Regions from separate parts of the Homo sapiens genome. Here region 2 is linked to region 1. Evidence: fine-mapped expression QTL. A gene starts in region 1. The other region holds a variant in brackets. All regions are shown on one strand. Distances are from middle to middle.

What was found. PIP is the estimated chance that this variant, and not a neighbour inherited with it, causes the effect. A credible set is the group of variants that fine-mapping cannot tell apart.
Region 2: its variant is the best candidate, but not a certain one, in a credible set for the expression of FADD in whole blood (INTERVAL, PIP 0.67).

Annotation. Positions count from the first base shown.
Region 1 is chr11:70,200,766-70,205,110 of GRCh38, reverse strand. It overlaps FADD (Fas associated via death domain), which reads right to left and starts at 1,815. Exons shown (of 2, transcript NM_003824.4): 1 at 1,366-1,815. The coding sequence starts at 1,651. RefSeq lists silencers at 1,085-1,276, 1,326-1,405.
Region 2 is chr11:70,233,118-70,237,504 of GRCh38, reverse strand. No RefSeq gene overlaps it. Among named protein-coding and RNA genes, the nearest start is that of FADD, 32 kb to the right of the region's middle. The variant A/G (reference allele first, on the strand shown) is at 1,946.

The sequences.
Region 1 (4,345 bases):
GTTACCATGACTGTACAGATGAGGAAATTGAGGCACAGGGAAGCTAATGGACATTCCTGAGATCGTGTAGCTAGACGATGGCAGAGCCATGTTCTGAAACCCTAAGAGTGTGGTGCCAGAGTCGACCCTTAACCGCTATGCTGAACTTCTGGGGAGGAAGGCAGAGTCGCCCGCTACCAACCTGTCCATACCCACCGCTCACCTTCTGGTGTACTTTTCCCAGCACACAGTAACTACATGACGATATAAATAAAACCAAGCACACATACATCTCAAATGTCAGCTATGTTTCGTAGACCGCCTTTAAAATGCAATTTATCAGTGTTTTTCCAGACATTAAATATCCATAAAACCCGATTTTTCTACGTCCTGTTTTGTTTGTTCAGTACTGATTTTTTTTAAAATCTGGACTTGACTGCTCTCAGGCAGAGAGCTGTTCTGTCCATCCTGTCCCCAACAGGCACCAGTCTTTACAGAGTGAAACCCATGGTGACACATTTAGGCCCTATCTGATTGGTGACTGAATGGCTGATTCCAAGCTACAGCTTGAAGCCTCTGAGAGGCGTCCCCAGAGCACTCCCAAGCCTCTCCCGACTCTGAGAACAAGGGGGGTAGGGCTGAGAAACTCTGCTGTACTCAGGGTTTCTTTTTTATCCTGGAAGCTGCTGCAATCCACAGGCGAGGGTGGAGAGGGAGTGACCGAGAGCAGGACAGGAAGCCACTCCACAATGAACTTGACCAGAGAGGCAGTGTAGTGGCTAACACTACCCATCCGGAGGCCGGACTGCTTGGCTCAAGCCTAGCTCCGTCAGTTATCGGCTGCGCATTTCGACAAAGCCACTTAACCTGTGAGCCACAGTCCTGTCCTCTGTAAAATGGGAACAGTGATAGCTAACAGTATCTAAGCCACAGGGCTACTGCGAAAATTGTATTTGGCAGTTACAAGGGTAAGCGGCACACTGTAAGCCCCTGGGTAGGAGTTACTGAATGCTAGTATTACTCTCAGACAGCCGTGAAAAGCATATTCCGAGACAGAAAGGAAATGATGCGAGGCAGGCTCACCCAACCTCTGCCCCTCCCCCACACCTTCTCTGACTCATCTTTTCTTCAGTGAGTTTTCTAATTTACCCGGGCAGAAGTGGGTGGAGGAAAAAGGACTGTGCGTGTCCACGCCCTGCAACCTCGAATAAGTTAACTTTTCTGCGTTTCTGGCTCTCCCATCTGCAAAACCAGGGCTGTACGGAGAAAACCCACGCAAATCAAACCCGGCAAAGGGGAGGCGCCTGGAGGCCAACCGGAGGAGCCTCGCAGCACCTACAGCCGGGCGACCAGGCCCTGGCTCCCCCGGCCCGGCCCCGCGCCCACCTTCTTCCCCAGGCGCGGCCCCGGCCGCCGCCCCCGCCTCGAAGTCGTCGACGCGCCGCAGCAGGTCGTGGCGCCGCAGGGAGGCGAGCAGCTCGCGCAGGAGCTCGGTGTGCCCGGGCTCCAGGTCGTTCTGCTCCAGCAGCATGGAGAAGAGGTCTAGGCCGCTCTGCACGCGCTCCAGCTTGCGCTTGCCCACGCGCCCGAGGCATAGGAACTTGAGCTCGGTCAGCTCGCTGCTCGACAGGCTGGACGACACCGAGTGCAGCAGCACCAGGAACGGGTCCATGGCGGGGTCTGCAAGCGGCCGGGGCTGCGGCCCGGCCCTCCGTGCGCCCTCTGTCCTCGGCTCGCTGGCCCTGGCCAGGTCTCGCCGCTTGCCCAGCGGCCCAAGGATTCCACCCCCGAACCTGCACTCCGGTGCCTGATTCACTACAGGAAATCGACAAGAGCGCGTTTTCGACCGTTATCTCGCGAAAACTAAGGGACCCGCGCATGCGTCCCTAGCGAAGCCGCAGCCGTTTCCGCCCTGGCTGGCGGCGCCGCGGACGGGCGCGGCTTCTGCGCCTGCGCCCGGCGTATCGTCTCTTTTCCGGGTGGGAGGTGGGGCCTTGGGTGTCCTGAGAGCCTGCAGGTGGCCCAGCTCTCTGCGGTGAGGGCGGTCGCGCCTCTGCCGAGTCCACCTGTTTGCAAAGCGCGGTGCGGCCCTACTGTGTGCAGGGCCGGGGCGGGGAGGGCGCAGCCCGAACGTCACGTGCCCTCACATCTGTTGGTGACCAAGGTTACTTATGCATTAACGTTTAGGGACAAACGTGGAAAATGCATTCTTTGGTGCCCCTGGAGACATCTTGTGTGTGCAGAAAACACTACTCAGAAGTTTATGTGCGTTTAAACATGTGATTTAAATAATACATGATTTCCAAAGTAGCAGTCGTTTATTCAATCAACAGTATTGAGCGCCTACTGTGCCAGGTAGTAGGGTCTGGGGACAAATTAGTGAGCGAAGCGCGAGGGTCCCCGCGTGCCCGGAGTTTACATCATAATTACAAAAGCGACACGCTCCAGAAGAGAAGGTCGTGGCGGCCGTGGTGGCTCAGCCTGCAATGCCCGCACTTTGGGAGGCTGAGGCAGGATTGATTGAGACAAGGGGTTCGAGACCAGCCTGGGTAACATAGTGAGACCCCGTCTCTATTAAAAAATAAAAATAAGGAAAAATAAGGAAATCGTATAGTATGCCAGAAATTCAGAAGAGCCAGGGGAAAGGGAGTCTCTTCACGGGGTGGGCGTGTGGAGGGTGGGGGGCCCGGTGGTCTGATGGGGCCTCTGTAAAGGCGCAGGTGAAGGCTGGGAGGGGCCGGGTACCTAGGTGTGGGGGGAAGAGCTGGGCACACGGAGAACAGAAGAGCAGAGCACAGGGGACGGCTGGGGTTCCAGGAGCAGCAATGCCGTGGGTCTGGAGGTGAGGAGGGGGTGCAGATTAGGAGAGCCCTCACCAGCCAACAAGGACCCAGCTTTACCACAGGGTGGGGCAGGGGCTGATGCCAGCTGAGTTTGTTTTCTTGAGATATAATTCACATACCATTCAATTCACCCTTTTAAAGTTATACTTCAGTGGTTTTTAGTGTAGTCACAAGGTTGTGCAACCCTTACTGCTGTCTAACTTTAGGACATTTTCATCACCCCAAGAAGAAACCCATTAGCATGTACTCCTCCCCTCCCCCACCAACCACGAATCTACTTTTTTTTTCTTTCTTTCTTTTTTTTTTTTTTTTTGCTGTTTTGAGACAGAGTCTCGCTCTATGGCCAGGCTGGAGTGCAGTGGTGCGATCTGGGCTCACTGCAACCTTTACCTCCCGGGTTCAAACAATTCTCCTGCTTCAGTCTCCTGAGTAGCTGGGATTACAGGTGCCTGCCACCATGCCTAGCTAATTTTTGTATTTTAGTAGAGACAGGGTTTCACCATGTTGGCCAGGCTGGTCTTGAACTCCTGACCTCAAGTGAGCCTCAGCCTCCCAAAGTGCTGGGATTACAGGCGTGAGCCACTGTGCCCTGCCGAATCTACTTTTTAAAATCTATGGATTTGCCAATTCTGGACATTCCATGTGTACAGAACCATACAGTATGTGGCATTTTGTGTCTGGCTGTTTTCAGCATCATTTTCAAGGTTCATCCATGATGTAGAACATATGAGTACTTCATTCCTTTTTTTTCTTTGAGACAGAGTGTCACTCTTTTGTCCAGGCTGGAGTGCAGTGGCACAATCTCGGCTCATTGCAGCCTCTGCCTCCCGGGCTCAAGCGACTCTCGTTTCTTGTGCCTTAGCCTCCTGACTAGCTGGGATTGTAGGTGTGTGCCACTATGCCAGGCTAATTTTTGTATTTTTAGTAGAGACAGGGCTTTGCCATGTTGGCCAGCCTGGTCTCAAACTCCTGGCCTCAAGTGATCCTCTTGCCTCACCCTCCCAAAGTGTTGGGATTACAGGCGTGAGCCACTGTGCCCAGCCTCCTTCCTTTTTATGGATGCATACTATTCCACTGTCTGGGTGTTTGGGTGCCACAGTGTGTCTATCCATTCATCGGAGGATGGACATTGCCTTTGCTTCCACTTTTTGGCTGTTGTGAATAATGCTGCTATGAACACTGAGTTACAGTTTTATTTTGTTTATTTATTTATTGAGACAGGGTCTTGCTTTGTCACCCAGGCTAGAGTGCAGTGGCACAGTCATAGCTCACTGCAGCCTCCTGGGCTCAAGCGATCCTCCCATTTCAGCCTCCTGAGTAGTTGGGATTACAGGTACATACCACCACCCCTGGCTAATTTTCATTTTTTTTTTTTTTTTTTGTAGAAACAGGATTTTGCCATATTCCCCAGGCTGGTCTTGAGCTCCTGGGCTCAAGTGATCCACTAGCCTCAGCCTCTCAAAGTGCTGGAATTTCAGGTGTGACCACCGTGTCTGGTCTTGAGTTACATTTTTTTTTTGAGA
Region 2 (4,387 bases), 32 kb before region 1:
CACCATTTTAAAGAAGGGGACCATCAGCTTCAGAACTGCTGATCCTGATTCACATGTCAGAGGCCACAAGAGACCACAGGACAAGTTTGCAGCTCTGGGTGACAGGACTATGGAGAAGCATCCGGTTAAATAAAGGCCCCTTCTGTCCAGATGGCTGAGACGGAGGGAGGAGACAGAGGCCTGGGGTCCAGCCTGCCTTCCCTTCTTCCCTCCAGTCAAGGAAAGTGACTTTTTTATGATTCTTATTTCCTGAGATGTGAAAGTAAACCAGGGGCCTGGGGGTGCAGGAGAAAGATTTCTTAGGTAGTAAGTCTTTTCCCAAATTATTTATTTATTATTTTATTTTATTTTATTTTATTTTATTTTATTTTTTAGAGACAGAGTAGTGCTCTGTCACCCAGCTGGAGTGCAGTGAGTGGCACAATCATAACTTACTGCAGCCTCCAACTTCTGGGCTCAGGTGATCCTCTCGCCTCAGCCTCTGAGTAACTGGGACCACAGGTGCACGCCACCACATTCTGCTCATGAAAAAAAAATTTTTTTTTTTTTTTTTTTTTTTTTTTGGTAGAGACAGGGGCAGGTCTCACTATGTTGCCCAGGCTGGTCTTGAACTCCCGGCCTCCAGTTTTTCTTCTGTCTCAGCTTCCCAGAGTGCTGGGATGGTGGATGTGAGCCACCATGCCTGACCTAGAAATTCTTAATTAAGTGCCACTACTTTGGAAGGGGGATGAAATCAAGTGGTCGGTCTCTGCCAGGATCTGGAATAGGCTGCTAGGGTTCCCAGGCCCCATGCTGATGATGGATCCCTCTCTCCTGGAGGAGGTGGGGGCGCGTGGCCCCACGGGCTCACTCGGCTTGATGGAGAGGCCTCTTCTGAATGCCCAGCTCCCATGTAACATCCTCTGCTGGTCCCAGGTGCCTCCCCCCATTCACCTGGCCTGGGCTCAGTGCCCCATTCACTGCCCTCTGCCTAATGGTTGGCCTAATGGTTGGCCACTCCAAGTGGACCAATGGATTCTTGGCTTGTCCAACTGTCTCCTGTGAGCTGATTCCTATGGGCCATAAACAGGGTGCGACTTGCACCGAGGAGGGATAGGAAGAGAAGGGACAGATGTGGACAGCCAACCTGCAATGACAGCTGTGGTCACCACAGAGATCCCTTATGGGCAGGTAAGATATTCCAGGCACCAGATGTGGTGGCTCAAGCCTGTAGTCCCAGCTATCTGGGAGGCTGAGGAAGGAGGATTGCTTGACCCCAGGAGATCGAGGCTGCAGTGAGCCAGGATTGCGCCACTGCACTCCAGGCTGGGTGACAGAGTAAGACTCCATCTCTTAAAAAAAAAAAAAAGATATTCCAGTTGCTTTACATCCGTAACCCTCCCAGTGGACGTGAGAGCTATCATCTGTGGCAGACTGTATCTCCCAAAAGGTTATTGCAGCAGTGTCTCCTGTCCCATATACTCTTCCACTTTTCCACCTTTCCAATTTTCCACCTTTCCACTGCCCCATCAAAGTCTAGAGTTTACAGCCTGGACAACATAGTGAAACCCTGTCTCTACCAAAAAATACAAAAATTAGCCAGATGTGGGGAGGTGGAGGTTGCAACAAGCCGAGATGGCAGCACTGCAGTCCAGCCTGGACAACAGAGCGAGACCCTGTCTCAAAAACAAAAACAAAAAGTCTGGAGTCTAATTCTCCTGATTTTGAACCTGGGTGAGTTTGTGACTCACAGGCCACCAAGTGGGCAATTTAGCTGTCCTCAGGCTGTCATGTTGGGAGGAAGCCCATACCGGAGCGTCAGGCAGAACCACCCAGTGGGGCCCTTCCTGAATTCCTGACCCACAGAAGCCCTGAGACACAAGAGACTTACTGGGGTTTTAAGCCACTCAGTTTTGGGGTGATTTGTCATGCAGAAACAGATCATTGGAACATCAGTCCATTTCTC[A/G]GGTGAGGAAAATGAGGCTCAGAGTGTACCTTTGGAGTACATTTGTCCAAGATCACCTGGCAAATACATAGGAGAGTCTAGACCTAACCCCAGTCTGTGACTTCAAGGTCTGGGCTCCACTTTGCACCTGAACTTATGCACGAATGCATGTCAGTGACTTTGTCTATACCAGTAAGAAAGCCCCTTGAAGTCGTTTCATATGAAAGCAGTCGGGACACAGCCAGGCTTGGATGGGAAGGCCAGGCCTTGTATGCTGACTATTCTGCTATTCTGGGAGCTGGGCCTCCTTAGCGTCTCAGCCTTAGTCCCTTCACCCAGCCTGTATCTCACAGGGATTCCTTTATTAGTATTGTTTCCTAAGTACCTGGTGTGCCCAGGCTGCTGGTGGGTACATAAAAGTCAAAGGCAGCCGGGCACAGTAGCTCATGCCTGTAATCCCAGCACTTTGGGAGGCTGAGGTGGGCGGATCGCCTGAGGTCAGGAGTTTGAGACCAGCCTGGCCAACATGGTGAAACCCCGTTTCTACTAAAAATACAAAAATTAGCTGGGCGTGGTGGCTCATGCCTGTAATTCCAGCACTTTGGGAGGCCGAGGTGAGTGGATCACCAGAGGTCAGGAGTTCGAGACCAGCCTGGTCAACATGGTGAAATCCCATCTCTACTAAAAACACAAAAATTAGCCGGGCATGGTGGCGGGCACCTGTAATCCCAGTTACTCAGGAGGCTGAGGCAGGAGAATCTCTTGAACCTGGGAGGCAGAGGTTGCAGTGAGCTGAGATTGCGCCACTACACTCCAGCCTGGGAGGCAGAGCAAGACTGTCTCAAAAAAACAAAAACAAACAAAAACCCATCAAAATTAGCTGGGTGTGGTGGCAGGCACTTGTAATCCCTGCTACTTGGGAGGCTGAGGCAGAAGAATCGCTTGAACCCAGGAGGTGAAAGCTGCAGTGAGCTGAGATCGCGCCACTGCACTCCAGCCTGGGCGACAGAGCAGGACCCCACTGCAAAAAAAAAAAAAAAAAAAAAAAAAAAAAGTCAAAGGTGAGTAGGATATGGGCTTCCCTGACATCCCAGGTCCCCAGGCTATAAGGAAGAAGGGCCAGTAAAAAAGTAAGTCGACCACCATCCAACCCATACCCCCATGGGGCATGCTTAATACAGAGGGTGAAGCTGAAGCTCTATCTGCAGCAGGTTCTAGAAGGTCACTCCATCCCCCCCATGAAAGCAGATCCCTTAGCCTCCTAGCCTGACAGACAACAGCAGCACCTGAGATGTCCCAGGGGGTTAATGTGTTCTAAGCACTTAGCATATCGACTGGTCTAACCCTCACCAACACCCTTGAGGAAGGTGCCATTCCTATCCCCATTTTACAGATAGGAAGGACTGAGGCGGAGAAGCTAAATAACTTGCCCAGATCGCCCAGTCAGCAGGAGGCAGGCTCCTGGCGGCTAACTCCATAGCCAACACTCACCCCCGAACAGGGAGTGCCTGGTAAATGTCGACTGAACGGTGATCCGCTGGGGCATCTACGCAGAGATGGGCAATGAGTAGGAGTGTAGCAGGAGAGAGAAGCAGGCATTGGAATTCCTGAGGGTGGGAAGCATTTCTGAAGGCACAGAGAGGCACTAAACATCATCTGCTGGTTGACTCTAGCTGGGACACTCATGATGGCTGACCGTGCCAGGCCCTGGGGAGAGGGAGTAGGGAGGTGGCTCCAGCCTGGACGTGGAGGCACTCCCCAAGGCTGGAGCTTCGCAGGAGGACACTAACCTCCCTGGGATGCCGAGGACTCACACTTCATCCTGGGGCGGTGCGTTCAGCCTGCAGGTGTAGACAGTCAATGACTCCAGTTAATGGTGAGGTGAGGAACTTGGCACTGAACAGTGTTGAGTCACACGGTGAGAACGTCTTTCCCTTTTCAACAATCGGTCAGTCCCTCTGAACAAAGTGAGATTTCATCTCGGGCTAGTGATGACTAATGTCTTCTTAAACAAAGTGAGTAGCCCTCAGTTTCAGAGCCTGGAAGGCAGTGGAGTGTATGACGAGTTTCAGAATGTCACTTTTTTATTGCATTCCTTTTCATAGCCACCTCCTGATTATTCCAAGTGATACTGTGTTTCAATCAAGGTTAGCTTTGTGTAAGTGTCTGAAGTCTCCAAATCACAGTGACTTCAATGAGGGTTTATTTTTCTCATACAAAGGCAACCCTGATGTAAGCTTTCTAGGGCTAGCAGGGAGGCTCTGTAATCTTTAAGAACCCAGGATCCTTCTATCCTGCTGCATTGCTTCCTCATGACCCAATATAGCTGCCTGTGCTCCAGCTATCATGCTTGCATTCCAGGCAGAAGGAAGGAATAAAGGGATGCTGAAGGGCACAATCCTCTCCCTCCTTTAAGGCTGTTTTTAGGAAGTTCCACACTCCATTTCTGCACATATGCAGAAC